3 separate regions of the Homo sapiens genome follow, and regions 2 and 3 are each linked to region 1. The links come from fine-mapping of genetic effects on gene expression. A gene starts in region 1. Each other region holds a variant in brackets. All regions are shown on one strand. Distances are from middle to middle. Region 1 holds the start of SIPA1 (signal-induced proliferation-associated 1). Region 2 has its middle 11 kb from the start of KAT5. Region 3 holds the start of LOC124902692 (a long non-coding RNA gene).

The links. PIP is the estimated chance that this variant, and not a neighbour inherited with it, causes the effect. A credible set is the group of variants that fine-mapping cannot tell apart.
Region 2: its variant is the best candidate, but not a certain one, in a credible set for the expression of SIPA1 in blood mononuclear cells (TOPMed, PIP 0.88).
Region 3: its variant is the best candidate, but not a certain one, in a credible set for the expression of SIPA1 in monocytes after Pam3CSK4 (Quach 2016, PIP 0.86).

Annotation. Positions count from the first base shown.
Region 1 is chr11:65,634,661-65,642,832 of GRCh38, reverse strand. SIPA1 (signal-induced proliferation-associated 1) reads right to left here and starts at 4,732. Exons shown (of 16, transcript NM_006747.4): 1 at 4,651-4,732; 2 at 1,233-2,002; 3 at 456-583; 4 at 194-370. The coding sequence starts at 1,911. It overlaps PCNX3 (pecanex 3), which reads right to left. Exons shown (of 35, transcript NM_032223.4): 30 at 7,713-7,860; 31 at 7,385-7,615; 32 at 7,030-7,304; 33 at 6,526-6,659; 34 at 6,144-6,442; 35 at 5,394-6,067. The coding sequence ends at 5,855. MIR4690 (microRNA 4690) reads right to left here and starts at 6,523; the gene lies at 6,464-6,523. RefSeq lists enhancers at 4,100-4,169, 5,121-5,911 and a silencer at 4,520-4,889.
Region 2 is chr11:65,697,383-65,705,554 of GRCh38, reverse strand. No RefSeq gene overlaps it. Among named protein-coding and RNA genes, the nearest start is that of KAT5, 11 kb to the left of the region's middle. The variant G/A (reference allele first, on the strand shown) is at 4,105.
Region 3 is chr11:65,577,806-65,585,977 of GRCh38, reverse strand. EHBP1L1 (EH domain binding protein 1 like 1) reads right to left here. Exons shown (of 19, transcript NM_001099409.3): 2 at 6,843-6,900; 3 at 6,542-6,637; 4 at 5,989-6,042; 5 at 5,719-5,897; 6 at 5,499-5,641; 7 at 4,852-4,920; 8 at 4,605-4,767; 9 at 2,213-4,439; 10 at 1,580-1,737; 11 at 1,444-1,492; 12 at 387-1,019. LOC124902692 (a long non-coding RNA gene) reads left to right here and starts at 4,897. Exons shown (of 2, transcript XR_007062731.1): 1 at 4,897-5,346; 2 at 5,460-6,022. The variant C/T (reference allele first, on the strand shown) is at 4,386.

The sequences.
Region 1 (8,172 bases):
GCTGGTCTACAGAGCTCACTTTGAGACGCAAGGCTCCAGATGAACTCTGATGCCCTGTCTCTGAAAAGCCAGCTCTTCTGGGGTCACCACCCAGCCCAGGATCAGGGTCAAGGCTAGGGGTTTGGGAGCTGGGCAGGCTGGGTTCAGACTGGGGCCAGCTGTATGGCTGGGGGCTCCGCGGCCCGCCACTCACCACTTGCTCATCCAGTGTGAGCAGCGTCCGTGGTACCTTGGGTGAAGCTGAGCCCAGGCGCAGGCAGCTGGGGCTCAGCTGCGGCGCCACGTGCTCCAGAAGTTTCCTTGGGGACAGACCCCGTGGGGGCCCCGGCGGCAGCGCGTCCTCCGAGATGGTGCCACGGAGTGTCCGGAGCTGAGGAAGGGGTGTAAGGGCACTCAGGATGCATACAAGGTGTCGGGGAGGCAACCCACGTCCTGATCCCGCGATCCCGGCCCACCTGCGTGGTCCGCACGATGACGCGGTAGCTGTGCAGGGTGCCCCCTCCGCTGCCCTCCTTCTCCTCCCGCCGCAGGCTCACTGCCACCGGGCCCAGCGACTCGTCCATCCCGAAGAAGTTCTGATGTTCTGGGGGACCGCGCCGAAGAAAACGATTGGTCCCGCCCTCTGGCAGCCCCGCCCCCGCTCGACCACGCGCATCACTAAGCCCCGCCCTAGGCTTCATCTCACCACCAAATGTTGACCCTAGACTAAGTCCCGCCCCTCTGTAGCCCCGAGCTCAATATCTTGATCTCAACCCTGACCCAGAGGTGGACCCAGACCCAGACCTAGACCCACGCGGCCAGCTCCCAGGCCTAAATCCTGCCTTGGCTCCACCCACCACGCCCTCATTCTCCCTTCTATGTCCTGGAGCCCTCTCTCCGCAGTGCTGGTGCGAACAAGGTTCACGGATGCAGGGATTTGAGGCCTGAGTTTTCACCCCACAGAAAAGCCCATAGGGAATCTCTCCCCAGCCTGGCAGGTTGAACCAGATGGAGGATGAACCAATACGGAGGCAGAGGGACCAGCCCTGGCTGGGGGTGAGGAGCCAGGGATTAGCCTTAAGAAGGTGGTTGAAAGTAGGTCCAGGAGGACCCCAGCTCAGCTCTTGAGCCCTCCCAGGGCCAGGGACTTTACAGGAAATGGACAGTTCATGAGCCCTACTGTGTGCACTGCAGGTGACAGGGACCTCTTCTTCAGCCCCCCTCCTCCACTCCCTGGAACTGCCTTTCCTCACCTTTGCCATAGAAGTATTTGCGGTAGTAGCCAGCACCCAGGTCTGCGTGCTCCAGGCTGTAGGCCGAGGTTCGGTTCTGTGGCTCCTCCAGGATGGACACGGCCGCGTTGGGCAGTGCAGGGGGCACAGGTGGGGATGCTGGTCCACCCAGGCCTAGCTCACCCTCACCCCCGAGCTCACACACAAAGCCAGGTGCCCCATGCAGCAGGTCCGAGCTGGCAGCCTGGTCCTCGGCTGAAGCCAGGGTCCCAGAGCTGGCCTCTGAGTGGCTCCCCATCCCCTGAGACCTCGGAGCCCAATCAAAGAGCAGGCTTTGCACGTCATAGTGGGCAAACCATCGAGGCTCAAGCACTGGTGGGAAGGCAGGCTCTGGTTCCTCTGCTGGCAGCCCCAGCAGTGCCAGCGGGTCAGTGAAGAGCCGGGTGGAAGTGGCTGCAGGTCGGCTGGCCTCTTCGTGGCTGTGGGCACGGGCACGGGGGCTGGCTGGCGTGGGGGGCCTGGCCTCGCCTGCATCGCTGCCGCTGCGCAGGAGTGGGCCCCGGACTGGCCTCGGCTCGAAGGTGTGCGGTGTCAGCGGGGGCCTTGCTGGCTGGCGCAGCTTGCGGGCAAAGAGGTCATCTGTGGACGCAGGGGCCATGCCCCGCCGAGGGCTCCCCACACCGCCGGCCCACATGGGCATGCTCTGTGGGCCTGACTCTCCGGGGGCTGGGCCGCATTGGCGGGCACGGGTGTTTGGTGCCCAGCCTGAGGTTGTGGCAGCAGTTCCTGCCCTGAAGGAGGAGGGGGCTGCTCAGAGGGGCCTGGGCAGAAAACAGGAACCCAGGCCCCCAGCCTGGTCCTCCACCACCCGTGTTGGCTTCCGGCCCCCTCCGAGACCATCAAAGCTGCTTCCGCTTTCCAGGCCACTTCCTTGTCTGCCTAGGGCTAAAGTTTCCAGCCCCCTCCCCAGCTTAGCTGGGCAAGGCTAGAGGCTGGGCTGTTGGGTCTTGGTCCTGAGGGTCCTGGAGCCTGGGCAGCCCTGGGACTGCCAGGGTCCCCCAGTCGCCACCCACACACCTTAGCTTTGGCCTGGGCCCAGAGTAAGGGTCCCACCAGGACCTAGCCCAACCGGACAGATGACTTGTATTGGCTGGGACGGGAAACCCAGGGGCCACTGGTGTCTGGGTCCTGCCCACTTAACAAAGGGAGGACGTCCTGTCCCCAGAGACCTTCCTCCTTGCCCCTCCCACTTCCTTCAGGGTCCCTGGAGAGCTGATCACCCAGAGAGGTCTGATCTCAGTGCCCTGGACCTCAAGGCCTCAATACCACAAGGACACATGGGTTCCCAGGGAGGCAGCGGCAGGGCAGCAGGAATGGCAAGAGGACTTCCTTCAGCACAGGAAGTAGCCCCAACTGTGGGCCCAGCCCTCTGCCAGGCCCCCACATCCTGAGGAAGGTGCTGGGGTCACAGCAGCTGTCATGGGACCCCAGTCACCCTGCCCTGAAGGACAGGCCAACTCACCTTCTTGCAGGCTACTGTGCCCAGGCTTGGGGGCAAGAGGAGTCACAATGACAGGGACCCATAGGGACCTCTGCCTACCTGGTCTCACTGATGCAGACAGGGAGGTCTGAACCCCATGTGACAGATGGTCAGATGAGGTCCAGAGGAGATGCTCTTGCCTGAAGCAATTCCGTGTCAGAGCTAGGATGTGAGCCTGGGTCTGCCCATCTCCAGGCCCTAAGCAGGGCTGCACCTGCCCACTGCTGTCTGTGTGCGTAGGTTTTGGGGGGTGGGTGTTGGGCTGAGGTTCAAGGTCTCACAGGATGCAAGATTGAGACACCCAAAGCCCCAGGGACCTGCTAAGTGCGGAAACGTGACGCCAGAGGCAGGTGCAAATGGTGGTGTGAGAACTTGAGGGAAGCCACACCCAGGCAAGCCCTGGATGGAGTAGGCAGTGAGGACAGGGAGCTGGGGAACCTCCACTGGGGGTACAGGCATCTAATGGTGGGTCTTCATGCAGCATCCAGCAACATCATGCGGGGCTGGGCCGGAGGGGGGTGGAGGAGGGGCTCCACACACCCTTCGTCTGGGGCCTCCAGAACCAAGCAAGAGTCGGCTCCCCAGCCCAGGTGCTTCTACCTTGATTTCTCCTGAATAAACTCCCATGCTGACCTTGAGCCTCTGTTTTCTCATCTCTAAAATGGGGTTAACTGGCCGGGTGCGGTGGCTGTGGCCTGTAATCCCAGCACTTTGGGAGGCCAAGGCGGGGGGATCACCTGAGGTCAGGAGTTCAAGACCAGCCTAGCTAACATGGTGAAACCCTGTCTCTACTAAAAACATAAAAATTAGCCGGGTGTGGTGGTGCGCACCTGTAGTCCCAGCCACTCAGGAGGCTGAGGCAGGAGAATCGCTTAAACCTGGGAGGCAGAGGTTGCAGTGAGCCGAGATCGCGCCACTGAACTCCAGCCTGCGGGACAGAGTGAGACTGTCTCCAAAAAAACAAAGAAAAAAATTGGGTTTAATTATTTCTGTCCCCTCCCAAGGCTGCTGAGAGACTGAGAAGAATGAGGTGAGTGTCGCTAGCTATGTGTGTGTGTGACGGGTGTAGCCCCTGGCTCCATGAGCCAAGCTCTGGGCACATTCAGCGCTCGGGCCTGGGCTATAGTGTGTGAAGGAGTAGGAGGGCATGAGGGAGGGGGTCTGTGCAAGCCCCGCTCCTTGTGGGCTGAGCTCTGCACGCTTGGAAGTGAGATCTGTGCATGTGTGCACCCAGCCTGTGCGCTGCCTCTTGCTGTGGCCCAGTGCCAGGCTCTGGCGCTGCCTTGAGGGGTGTTCTCGGGCTCTGCCCCCCACCCTGAAGCTTCACACAGGGTCCATTGAGGCTAGGACATTCCTCCGGGCCTGTGTCACTAGGGGTGGGGGGAAAGGGCCGGCCCCGCCCCCACAGATCCGGAAGGCCTGGCTGCCCCAGGAGGAGGAGCTGGCCACTTCCCAGCACATCTGGAGGTCATGACCCCATTTCGGCTGCCAGGGGGCGCGACAGATGTTTCCTCCCAGGCCAGGCCAGGGACTGGGGTGGAGGCCGCCTAAGAAGAAGAGGAGCCTCAGAATAAGGGGGAGCCCCGCACACACTTGCAGTGTTGAGGGGGAGGGGGTCACAGTGCCGCCACCAGGAGTCAGGAGCCGCCGCTTCCACTCACCGGCTGGCTGGCCAGGCTAAGCCGTCACACAGAGAGAGTAGGAACGGCTGGTCAGAGACAGGGGGCTGGACATATTGACTCGGGACTGAGCTGGAGCCCGGAGGGAAGTTGGGAGGGTGCTGGCGGCGAACGTGGCGAGGACCCCACTCCCATACACATCACCCGGGCCCACGGCTAGGCCACCTCTCCCCTGTCGGGCCCGACAGTAGTGCCTCCCGTCCCCTGCTCCCGCCAGTACCTCTGGGGCTCCCGCCCAGCCGCCGCCGCCCGCGCTGGGGTCCCGCTGCCGCTCTCCCGCTACCGCTCCCGGCGCCGGCTCCGCCTGGGGGCGGGGCCATGCTGGGAGGCGGGGCCATGCCGGGAGGCGGGGCCGGCCGGGAGCTGTCTGCGGCGGGAAGCGCAGCAGCGGGGATTCCAGGCCTGGCGGAGGTCAGCACCGAGCAGTGCTCATTCTAAGGCCATTTCCTCTCCTGAGAAACTTGTGCCTGCCTTCCAGACCAACCGGGAGGGCTAGCGGAGGCCACCTAGCGTCCAGCTCCCGGCCAGCAGGTGCTCAAGAGTCTGCCACTATTTTATGGAGCACTTGCTAAGCACTGGGCCCTGGGCAACCATTCCACTAGCGCGCTCTCATTTATTCTAAAAACACCTTAGATAGGTGTCATCTCTTTACGCCCTGGAGCAGCTGAGGTGCAGAGAAAGGCTTTGGCCAAGAACAAGCCTGATAAATGTAGGAGCCACCAGACCTGGAAGTCTGACCATATGGTGGGAAATGGCAGACAATACCCTTCAGATAAAGGCTTGAAAAGGGAGCAGCCATGCGGTGAAGAGGACCCGGTTCTACCTGAACCCCACCTTGGTCTGCCCTTGATCTCTACTAGACTTCAGCCCCACATCCTTCACCCCTCTGCGTGCTTGTCCATCCCAACTTAGCCGCCTGTACTATCATGTACCCATTCCCAGGTAGAAAAAGAAACTGCCAACCAAAATCAAAAATAGTGTTATTAATTCTGATGTCTCCGAAGCACAAAAAAAAAAAAAAAAAAGAAAAGAAAAAAAAGGAAAGAAAGAAACCACCCTTCCCACAATTCAGGCCCCAGGTCCAGGCCAAGGGGGCCACACCTGCAGGCAGTGCAGGCCCAGGGGCTGAGGTGGTCCTGGCCACAGGCTCCAAGTGGGACCAGCCCATGGTTTGGCTCTTAGGGCCTGGCTGGGAGGCTGACTGCCTCCATCTGGGGAGCCCAGGCCCTGGACTGGGGATGAGAGAGATCAGGGGTCAAGGTCAGAGGTCTGGGTCACTCAGTTTTGGTACTCTGGCCAAGGCAGCCAAAGGTCAGGGTTCAGACATGTAGGCCAAAGCCACTCAGTTCTGTGGTCCAGCAGAGAGGCAGCAGAGCAGGTCCGTTACTGAATCCTAGGAGGTGGTCCAGTGGGCGCCAGGTAGCTCAGTACTGGTGTTCCAGCAGGGGCTGGGCTGCCGGGCTCTCACGCTCCTCAATAGGGGCAGGCCAGTCGCCCAGGGCACCCATAGGTGTGCCACTCTCAGGGGCACTGCTGTCCAAGCAAGGAATGTCCTGGGAAGCTCTGGGGGGTGAGGCCTCAGTGCTGACATCGGGGCTGAGGCTGAGGCTGAGGCTGAGGCTGAGGTCTAGAGGCGCCTGGGGGAGGGGGGAGAGGTTGGCGGGTGAGCAGGCCTTAGCCTTCTGGGACCCAACCCTCCCACAGGTGCCTTACCTGAGATTTGGGGGTACCTCCTTTGGGGCTCCCTGAGGCTGGCTCCCCGTCAGATCCTCCCAGCCCCTTCCGGCCCCCCAGGCTCCACTTTCCACTGGGGCCCTCAGAACTGAGGAGACCCGGGCCAGGGGGCCGTGAGGTCCGGGGACCCTCTGTGGGGATAGGCGATGCAGGGGGTGGTCCAGGGAGCCGAGGGGGAGGCCACTGCAGCAGAGGTGGGGGCCGCCCATCACCAGAGCCACTCAGGGAGGACCGCGGCCCCCAGCCAGGGCCTGGTGGGAGGGGTTGGTCACCATTGCCTGTAGGAGACAGATAAGACAGCAGAGGCCTCAGCTGGGCTGCACTCCTCACCCACGGGTTCAGCCCAGCCTCGCCTGCTCACCTGCCGTGTTCTCAGGTGTGGGGTGTGCCACGGGGGGGTTATTGCTGAGGGAGGTCAGGCCACCGCCCCCACTACAGTCTGAATCATCCACGTTCCCGCCACTATTGCAGCCGGCGCCACAGCCCTTGTGAAGCCTGGGGGTGGAGAGGTAGAAAAGGGATCAGGAGGGACACGGCTGAGGCCAGAGGCCTCACAAGCATGAGTCCTCAGCCCCAGGACAAGTCATCTAACACCTCTGAGCCCCAGGATCCTCCCCTCTAAGAAGCTGCCACCTACTTTGCAGAGTCTTTTGAGGGTGCGTTGTCAACAGTGCTTGATGACTAAAGGCCACTGTCAGCTCTGGGGGTAAGGTGACATCTAGGAGGGGCAGGTCAGCTCTGGGAGGGGGTCATCTCTCGGGATTCAAGCCCTGGCTCCAGCACGTCCTCCCTCTGAGACCCAGGAGGGACGTACTGCACCTCAGCTTCCTCCCGCGCCACACGTCACCCCTTCCCGAGGCCTCACCTCTCCCAGGTGCGCAGGAGCCAGTGGGCAATGGCACCCAGGCTGATGGGGCCACCCCACAGTGCCCGTAGCTGGGGGTGGCTGCCAGCCAGCGAGGTGGTGAGAGGCGACACGTAGATGGGGTAGCCCAGCGGCTGGTCACAGGAGGAGTTGATCATGTTGCGAAGCGCCTGCTTGGCGTTCTGGATGCTGCCACGCTCGGGGTTGCGGTTGCGCAGGAACACCAGCTCCTGCTGCTGCCCGGCCCACAGGCCGCGCACGCACTCCCGGTTCACCTGAGAGCCACACGCCAGGGTCAGGGGGCCGGCCCAAGGGGGTTTGGGGCAGGGCTTAGGGCAGGTGGGGCCGGCCCAACCTTGATGACTCGGAAGCTGAGGTGGCGCCGGTTGAGCATGATGATCTTGTACTCGTCGGAGGCATCATCCAGGACATGGCGCAGCGCCAGCAGGGAGGGCGTGTTGCTGAGGATGGCGCTGCGCCATGCTGGGTCACCCTCATGTGAGATGACCAGCCGCTCCTCGTTGGCCGCAATGGCATCGTATAGGGCTGCTGGCTCCTCATATTCATCTGGGGACGTGAAGTGGTCCTGGTAGAGAAGACGGGAACAGGGGTCAGTGGCCCCTGCCCTGGAGAGAGGCTTCATCCCCCACCTGCCCATGCTGCTGGGCACACCCCTCCCCAACCTGGTGAAGCTTGAGGGCCATGCGAACCCCAGGCGCCACAACGCGGTGAAGCAGGTCCATGTCGGCAAAGACCCACTCGTCACGTGGGGAGGTGATGCGAAAATCCCCCTTGAACAGGGCGTGCAGGCCGTAGAGGAAGGGCTCCAGGCTAAGTGGGAGGAAAAACAGGGAGGGGAGAGAGGGGTGTCGAGGACCCAGGGGTAAGGCTTCAGAGTGATCCAAGCAGAGGCCTTTCCTCACGCTGAGCCTCAGTTTCCCCATCTTGACAAAGAGGCCAATCTCTGCCCATGTCTCTCACAGAGCACTGAGGAGCAGGCAAGGTCATGACCAGGAAGTGCCCTGCCCGTGGGAGAAGAGGTACCCCAACAGGAAGGGCCACTGCAGTTTCTGTGGCCACTGTGGCCAGAGACCACAGTGCTCTTCGTGGAAGAGGTGGGGTGGGGACGGCAGTAGGCCCCGC
Region 2 (8,172 bases), 63 kb before region 1:
TCCACAAAAAAGTATGAAAATTTCCATCTCCCCATATCCCCATCATTAATAGATGTTAAAGCTCATATATATATGTATATTATACATACAACTTATATATATAAGTATATATATAGTATTAGTCGATTTCCATGCTGCTATAAAGAACAGCCTGAGACTGGGTAATTTATAAAGGAAAGAGGTTTAATTGACTCACAGTTCAGGATGGCTGGGGAGGCCTCAGGAAACTTACAATCAAGGCAGAGGGTGAAGGGGAAGCAAGGCACCTTCTTCAAGAGGTAGCAGGAAGGAGAAGCGCCGAGCGAAGGGGAAAGAGCCTCTTATAAAACCATCAGCTCTCATGAGAAATCACTCACTATCATGAGGACAGCATGGGGGAAGCTGCCCCAATGATTCAATTACCTCCACCTGGTGATTACAATTCAAGATGAGATTTGGGTGGGAATACAAAGCCTAACCATATATTATATATAGGATATATAGATAGATATAGTATATATATATATCATACATATATAACCATATCATATATCTATATCTATATATCATATAGATATCATATATAGATATAGATATAGATGTATTTTTTTTTGTCCTGAGGCGCAGTCTCAAGAGGTCCTGAGAACATGTAGCCCAGCTCCTGGCTTGAGCAATGCTCCTGCTTTGGCCTCCCAAAGTGCTAATATTATAGGCATGAGCCACCATGCCTGGCCACAAAGCCTTTTTAATTCTTGCCAAGCTGATGGGTATAGTAGTATAACTTTACTTTGCATTCCCCAATCTTTTAGCCAGATTAAGCAGCACCTTTTCTTTTGTTTGTTGGCCACTGGAACTTTTCTTATGTGAATTGCTCCTCTGTATGTTTAGCCCACTTTTCTGTTGCGTTGTCCACTTCTTGATTTGCAAAAACCCCTTTTATGGGGTGATATTAAGCTGCTATTGCCTTCAGCTGTGTAAACATTTTTTCTGAGTTTCTCCTTTGTCCCTATAGTTTGTCTCCATCCTCTTTTGGCATGCATACATTTAAATAGTCACATTTCGGCCGGCGCAGTGGCTCACGCCTGTAATCCCACCACTTTGGGAGGCTGAGGCAGGCGGATCATGAGGTCAGGAAATCGAGACCATCCTGGCTAACATGGTGAAACCCTGTCTCTACTAAAAAATACAAAAAATTAGCTGGGCGTTGTGGCAGACACCTGTAGTCCCAGCTACTCGGAAGGCTGAGGCAGGAGAATGGCGTGAACCTGGGAGGCGGAGCTTGCAGTGAGCCGAGATTGGGCTACTGTACTCCAGCCTGGGCGACAGAGCAAGACTCTGTCTCAAAATAAATAAATAAATAAATAAATTGTCAAATTTCATAACTTCTGCGTTTCCAGTCTTGGTTGAGAAGGTCTTCTCATATTTTACATTTTTTTTACAAGATTCATATTATGGTTTTTTTTTTTATTTAATAAATCTCTTCTGGAATTTGTTTTGTGGGCTAGTGTAAGAGACAGGCCCAGGTGCATTTTCTTCCAGATAGGGAGTGAGCTGACTGCAGCGCCTCTCATTACATAATTCCACCCTTTCCTGCCGAATTAAAATGCCACATGTGGCTGGGCATGGTGGCTCACACCTATAATCCCAGTACTTTGGGAGGCTGAGGCAGGCGGATTACTTGAGGTCAGGAGTTCAGGACCAGCCTGGGCAACATGGTGAAACCCCATCTCTACTAAAAATACAAAAATAGCTGGGTGTGATGGCACATGCCTGTAGTCCCAGCTACTCAGGAGGCTGAGGCAGGAGAATCACTTGAACCGGGGAGGCAGAGGTTGCAGTGAGCTGAGATCGTGCCACTGCACTCCAGCTTGGGTGACAGAGTGAGACCCTGCCTCACAAAAAAAAAGGAAGCCAAGAAAGAAAGAGACACTGTGGGACCAGCTGGCATGCAGGGAGCATGGGAGGAACAGAGTGGCACTTGTCTGTGACATTAAAGAGCATGCAGCCTCCAGCCAGTAGTCATAACACAACAAAGCAGAGAACTTTTACTTTCTTAATTTTATTTCTTTATTTTCTCCATAACTAAACTTAATCTCTGATTTGAGATCCATCATGCCTAGGGCGGTAGGGAACATAATCTCAGGAACTTTTGAGATGTAGACTCCCATCCAAGGTGGAGCTGGAGGGCAAGGACAGGATGACCTGGAGATACATCAGTCATTTGACTTGATGGGTGAGCACCATATGAGAAACAAAGAATACTACTGAGAATTAAAAGAGACATTTTATCTTTATAAAGGAGTTATTTCATTAAGAAAACATCAAAGTCATAACAGTATGCATTCAATAATTCAAAACGCATGAAGCAAAAACTGACAGAACTGAAAGGAGAAATTCCTTTCAGACAGGCATGAGCCACCGCACCTGGCCTCTCTGGCTGATTTTAAGTGTGCAATTCACTGCCATTCAGCACATCTACAATGTCATGTAACTATCACCATTTTCCAGCTCTGGAATTTTTTCATTGTCCCCAACATAAATTCCGTATCCATTAAGCAAAACTTCCCATTCCCCTCCCCTCAGCCCCTGGTAATCTCTATTCTACTTTCGTTTTTATTAATTTGCCTATTCTAGGTACTTCGTATAAGTAAAATCACACAATATGTGTCCCTCTGTGTCTGGCTTATGTCACTTGGCATAATGTGACATAGGTTGATCGATGCTGTAGCATATGCCAAAGTTTCATTCCTTCAGATTGCCACAGAATATTCCCTTGTATGTATACACTGCATCGTGTTTCTCCGTTCATCTGTGGATAGACATTTGAATTGTTTCCACATTTTGGCTATTGTAAATAATGTTGCTATCAACATTGGTGTACAAATATCTGTTGAAGTTCTTGCCTTCAGGTTTTGTTTTGTTTTGTTTGTTTGTTTTGTTTTGTTTTTGAGATGGAGTCTCGCTCTATGGCCCAGGCTGGAGTGCAATGGCATGATCTTGGCTCACTGCAACCTCCGTCTCCCAGGTTCAAGTGATTCTCCTGCCTCAGCCTCCTGAGGAGCTGGGATTACAGGCGCGCACCACCACGCTGGGCTGATTTTTGTATTTTACTAGAGATGAGGTTTCACCATGTTGGTCAGGCTGGTCTTGAACTCCTGACCTCGTGATCCACCGCCTCGGCCTCCCAAAGTGCTGGAATTACAGGCATGAGCCACCAGGCCCGGCCCAGTTCTTTTGGATATATACCTAGAATTGGAATTGCTTGATCATAGGATAGTTCCGTGTTTAAAGTTTTGAAGAATTGCCAGGCTGTTTTCCACAGTGGCTGTACCTTCTTGCATGCTCACCAGCAAGGCACTAGGGCTCCAATTTCTTCACATTCTCACCACAGCTTATCTTTCGTTTTTTGGAATTAAGGGTTTGATTTTAACAGTTGTTCAGATTATATCACATTGCTCCATGGCAACAGTTAATGACATATTCTAGATATACATTTGATTAAAATATGTACTGCTTCCAAGAAGCCTTTCTCATTTTGAGAATTGAGATTCAGTTTTATAGATTCAAACAAGAATACCAATCAAAATTTCAGCAGACTGGATTGGTAGAAATTGACAAGCTGATTCTAAATGGTATACAGAAATTCAATGGCTCACACCTGTAATCCCAGCACTTTGGGAGGCTGAGACAGGAGGATAACTTGAGGCAGGAATTTGAGAATGGCCTGGGCAATGTAGCAAGACCCCATCTCTACAAAAATAAAATAAGATATTAGCCGTGTGTGGTGCCATACACCTGTAGTTCTAACTACTCAAGAGGCTGATGCAAGAGGATCACTTGAGCCCAGGAGACACAGACAAAAACCATATGATTATCTCAATTGAAACAATTATTAAATTGCATTTAATAAAATTCCATATCCTTTCATGATAAAACCTCTAAACAAACTAGGAATAGAAAAAACTTACTTCGGCCAGGCACGGTGGCTCACGCCTGTAATCCCAGCACTTTGGGAGGCTGAGGCGGGTGGATCACGAGGTCAGGAGATGGAGACCATCCTGGCTAACACAGTGAAACCCCGTCTCTACTAAAAATACAAAAAATTAGCCGGGCGAGGTAGCGGGC[G/A]CCTGTAGTCCCAGCTACTCGGGAGGCTGAGGCAGGAGTATGGCGTGAACCCCGGGGGACGGAGCCTGCAGTGAGCCGAGATCGCGCCACTGCACTCCAGCCTGGGCGACAGCGAGACTCCATCTCAAAAAAAAAAAAAAAGAACTTACTTCATAACAATTTATTGACATGACAAACCCATAGCTAACATCACACTGAATGGGGAAAATCTGAAAGTCTTTTCTCTAAGATCTGGAATAAGACAAGAATGCCCACTTTCATCACCCCTATTCAATACAGTGATGGAAATCCTAGCCAGCGAAATCAGGCAAGAAAAAGAAATAAGTGGCATCCAAATTGAAAAAGACAAAGTCAAACTATCCCTCCTTGCTGATGATATGATCATATATTTAGGAAAACCTAAAGACTCCACCAAAAAACTCCTAGAATTAATAATAAATTCAGTAAAGTTGCAGGATACAAAATCAACATACAAAAATCAATAGCATTTCTACATACCAATAATGAGCTAGCTCAGAAAGAAATGAAGAAGCCCATTTATCTTGCTGCAAAAAAAAAAAAAAAAAAAAAAAAAAAAAAAAAAAAAAAAAGTCTAGGAATAAATCTAACCAAGAAGGTGAACTATCTCTACAATGAAAACTACAAAACACTGATGAAAGAAATTGAAGAGGACACAAACGAATGGGAAGACATCCCATACACATGAAATCAGAGAATTAATAGTGTTAAAATCAAGAGAGGAGACCAGCAGGTCTTGTTTGGAAAGAATCAGCAGATGGTGACAAAAGCAATCCCTAGCTGCCCTCATTGTTCCTTAGCATAAGACACTCCCACCAGTGTAATGACAGTTTACAAATGCCATGGCAAAGACCCAGAAGTTACCACATCTTTCCACACCAATGACCCAGAAGTCACCACCCCTTTCCTAAAAGGTTCTAAATAACCCCTCCATCAATTTGCATTAACTCACCCTTCTATTTGCATATAATTAAAAATGAGTATAAGCGAATATAAATACCGTTGCCAAGAGCCCATAGGTTGCCTGCTGCAGGTGCACTGCCTGAGTTATCCCTGCTCCACAAAGAGCAGTACCATTCAATTAAAAAACTGCTCTCTAATACCACTGTCTTGCTCTTGAATTCCTTCCTGTGTGAAGCCAAGAACCCTCCCAGGCTAAGCCCCAATTTTGGGGCTCACCTGTTCTGCATCACCTGGTGACCATGAAGACCACAAAGACAACAGAGATGGCAGCGACTGGCAATTAGCAGACAGGCAGCAAGACACTAGAAAGGAGAAAATTGGCAATTGTTGGTCAGCAATTGGCGGGATGGTGAGACAGGACAGAAAGATAGCAATAGATAGCAATTAGAGAGAAGTGGTGAGAGCAACTGGCAAGACAGTGAGACAACAGAGAGATGGCAGGAGGTGGCAGTTGGAGAGAGGTGGCGAGAGATGTCAAGACGGTGATCAGCAAGAGACAGCAGGTGATCAGTGCTACAAGCAATCAAAGCTGCAGAGCTTCTAACACTGCAGAGGTGTAGCACTAGCCCAAAGGTTCATTTTTAAGAGCCACTGTCTTGGCCGAGCGCAGTGGCTCACTCCTGTAATCCCGGCACTTTGGGAGGCCAAGGCCAGTGGATCACCTGAGGTCAGGAGTTTGAGACCAGCCTGGCCAACATAGTGAAACCCCATCTCTACTAAAAATACAAAAATTATCCTGACATGATGGTGCACAACTATAATCCCAGCTACTCAGGAGGCTGAGGCAGGAGAATCACTTCAACCCACGAGGTGGAGGTTGCAGTGAGCCGAGATTGCACCGCTGCACTCTAGCCTGGGCAACAGAATGAGACTCTGTCTCAAAAAAAAAAAGAGCCACTGTCTTTCCTGGCAACCCGTGGAGCCAAGCAGATGGACGAGCAGCCATAGCAGCACTGCCTTCTGTGGGACCCAATATTCCAGCTGGCATGTTGCTAGTATACCTGCTGATCCCCCTTTGGCAGCCAAGCTCGCCCAAGCTGGGGAAATCTGGGGAGGAGACCTTCACTGGGCCCCATGTTAGAGACTGGCCAGCACCATTTTGGCTCTTGCGGACAGGTGACTGTCCCCTTTGCCTCCTCTCCTCCATATCAGGTGATCCAGGAAATAAGGCTGTTGGCTAAATAGTCAATTCAAAGTCCCTCAAAGCGTGCCTGACCAATTGCATCCTTGTTGCCCCTTCTCTTGGTCCCTTCTCCTCTCATGCCATTTAATTTTTCTGTTGGCCATTTTATTTCATTTTATTTTCCACTCTGAAATATATATTTCTTTTGTAGTGTTTGCTTTGAATCCCCACTAACTATATTTGGGCAATTGTTTAAAGCAGGACACTCGCTTGTGGGAGGTCTCTGTTGTATTGACCCTGCAAAAAGTTGTTCTATGCCCCTGACTTGGTCTTTGGGATTCACTGTTGGCCACCCCCCAGATGGTCCAGGGTTTTTGACATTTGGTGTGAGGACTCTCATTGGCCAGTGAGGTGGTGGGGGCTGGGACATGGGCTCTTCCTGGGGACACCCCAACTCCTCTGCTCCTTTCTACAACCTCTGCTGTTCCTCTCTTCCCCTTTCCTCATCCTTTCATAATCACCTTGGTGGGCAGTGGTAAGGTGACTGGCTCAATATCTGAGCATTTATTCTTCCAAATCTTTTTGGGTTTGGGGGAGTTTTTGTTTTGTTCTGTTTTTTAGACAGCATCTCACTCTGTCTCCCAGGCTGGAGTGCAGTGGTGTGATCATGGCTCACTGCAGCCTCAACCTTCAGGGCTCAGGTGATCCTCCCCGCTCAGCCTCCTAAGTATCTGGGACCAAAGGTACATGTCACCACACCTGGCTAATCTTTGTATTTTTTATAGAGACAGAGTTTGGCCATGCTGCCTAGGTGGGTCTGGAACTCCTGGCCTCGAGCCATCCACCCGCCTCGGCCTCCCAAAGTGCCGAGATTACAGGCATGAGCCACTGTGCCGGCCCATATCTATTGTTTATGACACTGAAACCGGCATCGTGAGTTCTTTTGTTCTACTGTGTCCTGAGTCAGGGACTGGAGTGGGAGGGTCACAGGACAACAGGAAATCTGTGTGTGTGTGTGTGTGTGTCTGTGTGTGTGTGTGTGTGTGTCTGTGTGTTTGTGCGTCTGTGTGTGTCTGTGTGTGTGTGTGTGTGAGCTGTGATGTAATCTCACACTGTGTTCTCCTGTTTGGGTGTCTGTTAGAATCGGGTTGAGGGGAGTGAGGGAGGGTGGAAGTCGGGCGGGGAACAGCGCTGATGCTTGATTTTGGACCCTGGCAGGGGTGGAGAGAGATTTGGGAGGTAAAAGAGGCCTGAGATAGGGGGAGAGTCTGAGAGTGGGGAGGAATATGTCTTGAGAATAGGTAAGCCATGGCCGGGCGCGGTGGTTCACGCCTGTAATCCCAGCACTTTGGGTGGCCGAGGCGGGCGGATCACGAGGTCAGGAGATCGAGACCATCCTGGCTAACACAGCGAAACTCCGTCTCTACTAAAAACACAAAAATAGCCGTGCGCGGCGGCGGGCGCCTGTAGTCTCAGCTACTCGAGAGGCTGAGGCAAGAGAATGGTGTGAACCCGGGAGGCGGAGCTTGCAGTGAGCCGAGATCGCGCCACTGCAGTCCGGCCTGGGCGAAAGAGCGAGACTCTGTCTCAAAAAAAAAAAAAAAAAAAAAAAAGAGAGAGGCAGAGAGAATAGATAAGCCAGATTTCAGGCTGGAGAAGGCAGAATGTGAGTTTGGTCAGAAATGCCCACGGGCGCTGGCTAAAGGAGGCAGCAGACAGGGAGGGAGCTCTGGAGTTTGGGAGGAGGTGGGGAGGCCTGTCTCGCTGTCTGCTTATTTAGTGTTTGGTGATGGGGAAGCAGGATTTTTTTTTTTTCCTTTTCACTGGAATTTGGCCAGATTAAGCTCTAGGACTGCCCTGGACATATGGCCTCTCCAAACCCTGGACCAGCCAAGGCTTCTTATGTGGGGTCACCCCAGCCAGCCCCATGGCCCTATTCTTCATGTGGCTACCTTATCTGGGAC
Region 3 (8,172 bases), 57 kb after region 1:
GCCTACCAAGCACTGGGCAGAGTGCCAGGAACGTGGATGCTCCGGGAACTTCTGCAGCCTGATTCCCCACACCAAGTGCCAAGCACTAAAAACCCTCAGCACTTATCCCAGGCTGGCCGCAAAGCTGGGGACCCTGCCTGGTGGGCCTTGGCTCAAATGCGTCCCCTAATGAGGAGCTCACTACCACACCAGAGGACTCTTCCACAGCACCAGGGTCCCTCTGATCAGATAGCCCCTCCTGGGTCCAGCCGAGCCCCGCCACTCTGAAACCGTCACCCTCGCGCCAGCTCTGTCCTTGGGGCCCCTTGGGGGCTCGCCCGTTCTCTGCCCATCTTCCCGGGACCCCGCGCTGCGGCGGGGGAAGAAAGAAGGACCTTGACACTCACTGCAGCCGCAGCTCCCATGGCTCCCGCGTCCGGATCGTCCATCGAGAACGAGCTGCTGTTCCGCAGCCGCGAGCGCCTCTTCTTGAGCAGGTCCGCGTCGCGCACGTGGGAGAAGGAGCCGTGCGCGCGGGGCGGGGGCACCGACCCGGGCTCCCCGTTGACCGAGGGCCGTCGCAGCCTCACGCCGCCGCCGCCCGGTGCCCCCGCCCCGTTCACCAGCCCCTCGGCCGGGACCTCCGCGGGTCGCGACTCTCGGGGGGCCTCGGCCCCGCCGTCCTTGGAGGCGCGGCCCGCGACCGCGTTCCTGGAGGCCACCCCCGGGGCCGCCCCGTCTGCGCGGTCTGCGGCCTCCTTGGGCTCCTGGGGCCCCTCGGCCCCGTGACCGCGCAGCCGCTGCGCCAGGCCTCCGGCGTCCAGGTCGTCGGGCGGGCTGGGCTGGGCGCTGCCCACGCGGTACGTGCCGGCGCCGCCGCCGCCCTCCAGTTGTACCAGCTGCAGCTCCTGCCCGGTGCAGAAGGCGCGGATCTGGCACAGGTACGTCATGACGATGAGCTTGTCGGGCACCGACAGTAGCACCATGTCCGCGGGCTCCAGCAGCCGCGACACGCCCAGAGCCGCGAAGCCATCGAAGGCCTAGGGGAAGGGTGCACTCGGGGTCAGCGGCGGCGGTGGCCCGCGCCACCCGGCAACGCTGCAGTGCCGCCCCACGGAGGGGGTCCCCGGGATTGGCACCCCGGGTTTTGCCTAGCAACACCGCCCCCTCCTAGCGAGGGAAATCCAGCAACAAGGCCCGCCCTCGCGTTGCTTAGCAACGGCACACCGTCCACCCCGTTACCAAAGGGTGGTTTTGGAAAAACCATCTAAGGGAGGAAAAACGCTTTAAAACAAACAAACGAAAATAAGGAAAACAAACAATTTAATGACCAAAGGGGTAAAAAGTGGCAGAACTTCCAGAAGCCACTGCTGGGCCCGGCAGTCCACTTTCTCCAAATCTGACACTGAGAGCCTGGCTCTCCAGACCCTCCTTCCCTCCAGGCAGTCCCCCACCCCATCTCACCTGCTTGTTGTTCTGCTTGATGTTGAGTGGGTCTAGCGAGGCATAGTCACTGCAGAGAGTGTGCTGGTCAGAGGCTGGGTCCACACTGCCCTCCCTGATGGCTCCCCCATTCGTTCCCACCCCTCTGGCAGCTCACATCTTGTCTGGGTAGAATCGGTGCAGGATGGCACAGAAGGCCAAGCCGTTGCGCCAGGATGTGGTGAAGTTGGTGATGCGGACGCCACGGTAGCCAGTGGTGACTTCCTGGCACCACTCCAGCAGGGACTGGCTGGAGCTGACCAGGGCAGGTGGTGCCTGAGGACACAGGGGTGGGCTTAGGGAATGTATAAATGGGATGTATGCCCTCTGCCTCTTGGGGAAGCTCATGCCTGGCACACAACAGCCCCATCTCTGAGCTTGCAGGGGTCACCAGAGACCACTGGCTAGAGCCTTGGGGCCAGGTAAAAGGGTTTCTAGATCCAGGGTTATCTGCCAAGGTCACCTAAAAGGTCAGTGGCCCCCAGACAAGATCAGAGGTCACCAGCAGCCACACCTCAAAGTCAGCCCAGAAAATCAGCTTAGAGGTGTCCAGCTCCATGCGGCCCAGGGAAGATGGGGTAAGAGAGCCAGGGCATCCTGAGAGAGGAGGGGATGAGGGGGCTCCTTCAAGCTGAGCCCCCCACCCCACCCGATCCCATTCCACCAGGTGGGTCCATGCAGAGCCGCCGTTCGCTCAGCCCCAGGTTAGTGGGAAGCAGCAGACTGGGCCCTCGGCGGCCCCCATCCCTACCTGGCTGCCCGGCAGCCTCCTGTCCTCTTCAGCCTTCTCTGGGGAAGAGGCCCTGGGCGCCCCAGCCCCTGCCCCACTGGCCACCTGTGCTTCAGGCAGGCTGGCCTCTGTGAGGCTTCCCTCAGCTTCTTTCCCCTTCTCATTTCCCAAGACCCCAGCCTCCGCTTCCTGGGCCTTAAAAGTACCAGATTTGTTCTCTGGAGACTCTAAAACCTTCATCTCTGCTTCCTGGGCCCCCCAAGCCCCAGATTTGCCCTCTGACATCCCCCAAACCCCAGCCTCTGCCTCCTGGACTCTCAGAACTTGAGTCTCTGACCCTTGTACTCCTGAAATCTCTGCTTTTGCTTCCTGGGATCCTAAAACTCTTGGCTGAGTGACTGGGGCCCTTAAAGCCTCATATTTGAGAGCACTCCCAACTCTAGTCTCTGCTTCCTGGACCCCCGAAGTCTGAGCCTCTTCCTTCTCAGCCTCTGGAACTATAATTTCTGTCTTACGGGTCATCAGTACTCGGGCCTCTGCCATTCCAGCCTCGGGCCCTGAGATCCCTGAACCCCCGACCTCTGTCTCCTGGGCCCCAGCTACCTCAGATTCTAGCCCTGGGACCCCTGAACTCCTAGATGCTATCTCTTGGGTCCCCAATATCTCAGTTTCTGCTGTCCCAGTCGCTATCTCTGGAACCTCTGAACCCCCAACCTCTTTCACCTGGATCCCTGTTGTATCAGCTTCTAACCCTGGGACCCCTGAATCCCTAGATGCTATCTCTTGGGTCCCCAATATCGCACCTTCTGCTGCCCCAGTCTCTATTCCCAGAACCCCCAAAAGTCCCACCTCTATCTCCTGGGCTACCAATATGTCAGACTCTGCTATCTCTGCTTCTATCTCTCTGACCCCTGAATCCCTAGCTGTTATCTCCTGGGTCCCTAATATTTTAGCTTCTGTCCCCTCAGCCTCTGACTCTGGTACCCTAGAAGCTTCCACCTCTGTCTCCTGGGTCCCCAGCATCTCAGACTGTATTGTATCTTCTATCTTCAGTGGCCCTAAATCCCCAGATATCTCCTGGGTCACCAGTACCTCAGTCTCTGCTATCGTAGTTCTTGTCTGCAAAACTCCTGAACCCCCAGCTTCTGTTTTCTGGGTCCCCAATACCTCAGTCTCTGTCCCTGGGGTCTCTATGACCCCCACCTCTGTTTCCTGGGTCTCCAGTCCCTCACACTGTGCTGTCCCAGCAACCTCTGACTCCAGGACCCTTGATCTTGCTGCTTCTTTCTCCAAGGCCCCCAATATCTCAATTTCTAGTGTCCTAGTCTCTGGGAACCCTGACCCCTCAACTTCTTTCTCCTGGGTTCCCAGCACCTCCAACCCTACCACCTCAGTCTCTGTTTCCAGGTCCCCTGAACCCCCAGCTTCTGCCTCCCAGCCTCCCAGACCCCTGGATATTGCCCCCTGGGCAGTTGATAACAGGGCCCCCTGCCAGCTGCTCACCTGGGGCCTGGTGCTTATTGCTCCAACAGAAGGGCCCTGCTCCAGGCCTGTCCCCTCAATACCAGGTGCTCCACCCCTCACTTCTGCACCCTCTCTCTCCTGGCCTGCAGCAGCCCTGGCCCCCTCGAGGTCACCAAGTTGCCCAGAGTGCCCTGCAGGCTCCGCTGGGGGCAGGCTCAGGCCTGAGGGAGCCTCATCCCTGGTCCTGACTCCCAGCCTCCCCTGAGAGCCCCTTGGAGGAGCCTCAGGGGTCCCCCTGCATCTTGCCTCAGGCATCACCCCTGTCGCCTCTGGTCCCTTAGTGTCCACATGTCTCACCTTTGACCTCTGCTCAGCATCCACTTGACAAACTGCTGAACTCTCTTCAGCCTCCCCAGCTCTGACTCCTGACCTCTTAGTGTTTGCCTCTCTGCCTCCTGACCTTGGCTCAGTGTCCACCCCACTGGCCTCTGGCCTGTCCTCAGTGTCCATCTCTTCAGCCTTGAGTCTCTGCCTTCCAAAAGGGTCTCCAGAACCTTTATCCTCAATGCTCGGGCCCAGCCTAGCTCCATGGGCTTCTGTCCCTTCCTGAGGGCATGCCTGGGCCTGGGTCTCCCTAGCAGAGCCCAATCCTGCTGGAGGAGCCCCTGAGGCTTTGGGGACCTCATCTTCCCCCTGGGGGACTGGGGGCCGGAGGGCATCAGAGCCTTTC[C/T]GGAGCCGAGGGGCTGGGGTGGGGGCCGTGTCCTGGGCTGGCTGCCTTGAAGACCTGAGAAGAGAGCAGGAGGGGGAGTTGGGGGGCTGCTTTGGCCCCAACTCTCAGCACCATCCGCCACCCTTCAGACTGTTGGGGCCCTGGAGGCAGGTTGGTGGGGGTGAGGACTGCAGCTCCTATCAGGGGGCAATGGGGGGTGAGGCTGGTTCCAAAGCTCACCTCATCTCTGGTGAGGTTTCCGGGGGCCTTGGGGCCTCAGGGCCTACCTGGCCCCCCGCTTCATTAGCTCGTTCTGACCCCTGGCCTCGGGAGGTTCTGGCTGGGGGTGCAGGAGCACTCACAGGGGCTGGGCTGGTATCCTCAGCATTAGAAGGGCTGGCAACTGAGAAGAAAGAGGGGGACACTGTGGCCTGGGCCCAGTGACCTGGGGTCCAGTCTCCACCCCCAACCCCAGCCTGGGTCTCACCTGCCTGCTGGGGTCGTCCTTGGCCTTCCTCCTCCTCCTCACAAAGCGTCTTCAGCTCTCGAGAGGGATCTGGGAATGGTAGGAGAGGGGAGAAGGGCAGAGTCAGCCCAGGGCAGGGCCCCACAGGCCTGACCCCCTCCCCCAACTACAGTGCAGGTCCTACCTGGGAAACGCCCTGGCCTCAGGGCACCGCCCCGGCCTGCGAGAAGAGACAGGCCCACAGATGTGGAGAGAAAGAGAGAGAGAACCTCAACAGTGGACAGAGAAAAAGCCTGGACAAGCAGCAGGGAGGAATGAGGAAGCCCCAGCTGGCCCAGGAGGGCTGGTGGTGAGGGATCAGGAGCCGGGCTTCTGACCCAGCTGTCCTGGGTCAGGTACGGGCCTGGCAAGCACCACAAAGGGATGAGGAGAGGACCCAGGAGCCCAGCGAGACATTGGGAACCCATCCTCCAGGACTCAGCTGAAGACCAAGGCTATCGTGGGACCAGCAGCCAGGTTGGGACAATTGAGGCTGCTGGGTTGGTTGGGACTGCCTGGGCAGTAATGAGTTCCCATCACAGGGCGGGCACAGCAAGTGGCTGGTGGCCCGGGTAACCCTCCCTCCCCAGGTCTTGGCAGTCTCGATCCACAGCAGGCTGTGAGCCCACCTGGCTGGGGGACTCGAGCCCGGGCCTCCGGGGCTCCTGGGCCATGAGCCTCATCTTCATCACTCTCAGCAAAGTCATCCAAGTTGCCCACATCACTAGGCTTCACACTCATGAGGCTTGCGAGACTCTGCATGTCATCGTCCCTGGGAGGCAGAGGTTAAAGGTGAGGGTGGAGTCAGAGGTCACAGGCCAGGATCAAGGAGGGCAGGTAGGCACTCACGTGGCACGGCCCTCCCGCAGCAGCACCCCGGAAAGAGTGAGGCTCAGCTCAGCCTGCACCACCTTCACTGACTTTGGCTTCAGCCGCAGCCTCACTGGGACTTGGACAGGCACGGGCCCTGCATGGCGGGCCAGGTCCACCTCGGCCGTGGCCAGCACCTTCCGCTGCCCCTTAGACTCCTGTGGGCCAGGGGAGAGACCAGGAGAAGGGGCATCAGTGCTGTCCCAGGGTCCCCAAGATTCCAGACCTGAGCCCACTCCAGACACTCACATTTTCAATAATAAATGTCCACTCTTTGGCCTCATACTGGTCCACGTGGGGGTCCTGGGAAGAAGGGTGCTGGTGAGTACAGGACTGTTGGGGCAGCAGCAAAGGGAGCAGAGCTTGTCTGGCTCAGGAGGTGCTTGGTAGTGGTGGCTTTTTTTTTTTTTTTGAGACGGAGTCTTCCTCTGTCGTCGAGGCTGGAGTGCAGGGGTGCGATCTCGGCTCACTGCAACCTCTGCCTCCCAGGTTCAAGCAATTCTCGTGCCTCAGCCTCCCAAGTAGCTGGGATTACAGGTGCACGCGGTGGTTGCTACCTCCTCCTGGGATGCACCCCAAGTTCTGGTCCCAGCTGCCTCTCATGCTGCATGTGTTGGGTAAATGCTGCCTCCTCCAAGGAGACCTCCTGGGCCAGTGATGCTGAGCAGGCCCCCCTAATTCTTGGCCTCACCCCCCGCATCCTCTTCTATCTGGATGAACAACCTACCAGGAGACCTGTGTTGCAATTGTTGCAACTGCCTGTGTTGCAATTGCCATCCATGCTGGAGGGCTAGAGACTCACCCTGTAGAGGGTCACAGAGATGTCCACATTCTCAGGTACCATCCACACCACGGTGCCCCGGTATGGGTTCTGGATGCCCGGCTGCCAGCTGTGGGCCTACAAGGGACAATCTGAGTCCTCCCCCCATCTTAACTCTTCCCTCCCACCTGCACCCCCTATCACCAACCTTGACACCATCTTCCCCTCCCCTCTGTGGATTCTGATCTGTGCTTGAACCTCACTCCACTCCCCCATCAGCCCCCATCAGCCTCCCACCGGCCCCCATCCCTAACCTGGATCCCCAGTTGCCATCCTTCCCCACCTTGGAGCAGATGCGTCGGTTCCGACGGGTCCATACCACCACCAGCTTATCTGGCTGCCTGGGGGAGGGGGAAGGGGAGGGAGAAAGGGAGCAGGCTGCTTGGTCAGGCTCACCTGCCTCCCCATCTCCTCTTCCTCCTCCCCCAGCTCCCTCAGGGTCTTCCTTCTGCCCACCTCCCCCTCCTCCAGAAGAGGGCCTGGGCAGCCCCTTATCTGGGGCCACAGGGTGCAGGGTGGAGCTGCTAAGGTAGGGTGGGGCCAGAGCAGAAGGGCAAAGGCCCAGACAGTGTGGGCAGGCAGGGACTATGAGGAAAGACAGCAAGTGAGAAAGGGACAGGCACATACAGAGACCAAGACACACAGAAACACAAGGACCTGGCAAGAGATGCCAGACACAGATGCACATGTGAGCATCGTGCACACACGCAGACTCCAACACAGGGAGAGACAAAGACGAGGGATAAAAGAAGTCCCTTCGCACAAAGATGTTTGTGGAGCGCCCACCATAAACCCAGCCCAGTTTTGGGGACAGAGGAGGGCAAAAGAGAGACAAGACCTTTCCGGTGAGGACAATGGAGGTGGGGGCAGACTACCAGTCAAGAAGGAAAATAAATTAACAAGCGAACTCCAGGGTGATGTGAGGGAACCCCTGGGGGTCTCCTTGAGGTTGGGTGTCTGGGCAGAGATGAGTGGCAGGGGGATGGGCTGTGTGAGGATCTGGAGAAAGAGGGAATGGCAAGTCCAAGGGTCTGCGGCTGGAGGGTGACATCAGAGAGAGGGGCAGAGAGTTGGGGGTGAGGCCGGAGAAGCAGCAGAGGGTCAGCCTGTCATTAACCAACACCGCCATCCCTCGCCCACCATGTCCAGCCCTTTGCTGGGCGCAGGGGTCCCAAGGAGGATCAGCTTTCGGCAAGATGATGACAGTGGAGCCTGGAGGGCAATCAGAAAAGACTTCCAGGGGGTGACATCTAAGCTGAACAGCATATGCCAGGTCAGACATGGAGGAGAGGCAGAGGCAAAGCCAGAGGACAGAGATGGCTGCGCAGGGCCCATTCCCAGGCACTGAGTGGACTCATGGCTGGGCCTGGGGGCAGAGGGCCCCTTGGGGTTAGATGTTCAACTGCTGCCCAGGAGGGGTGATGCTTGAGGGGACGATCCGGCCCAGGGCAGCACGCGAACTGGCCTTGCCTGTACCCAGCCCCATGCCTGCACCCTCTCGTGATGCTGGGGTTTGCCCAGCTCACTGTTCGTCTGAGGCCAAGCCAGGATAAGTGCCTCTCTGTTAACCCTGAGGATGCTGAGGCCCACAGAGGTTTGGAGCCAAACAAGTT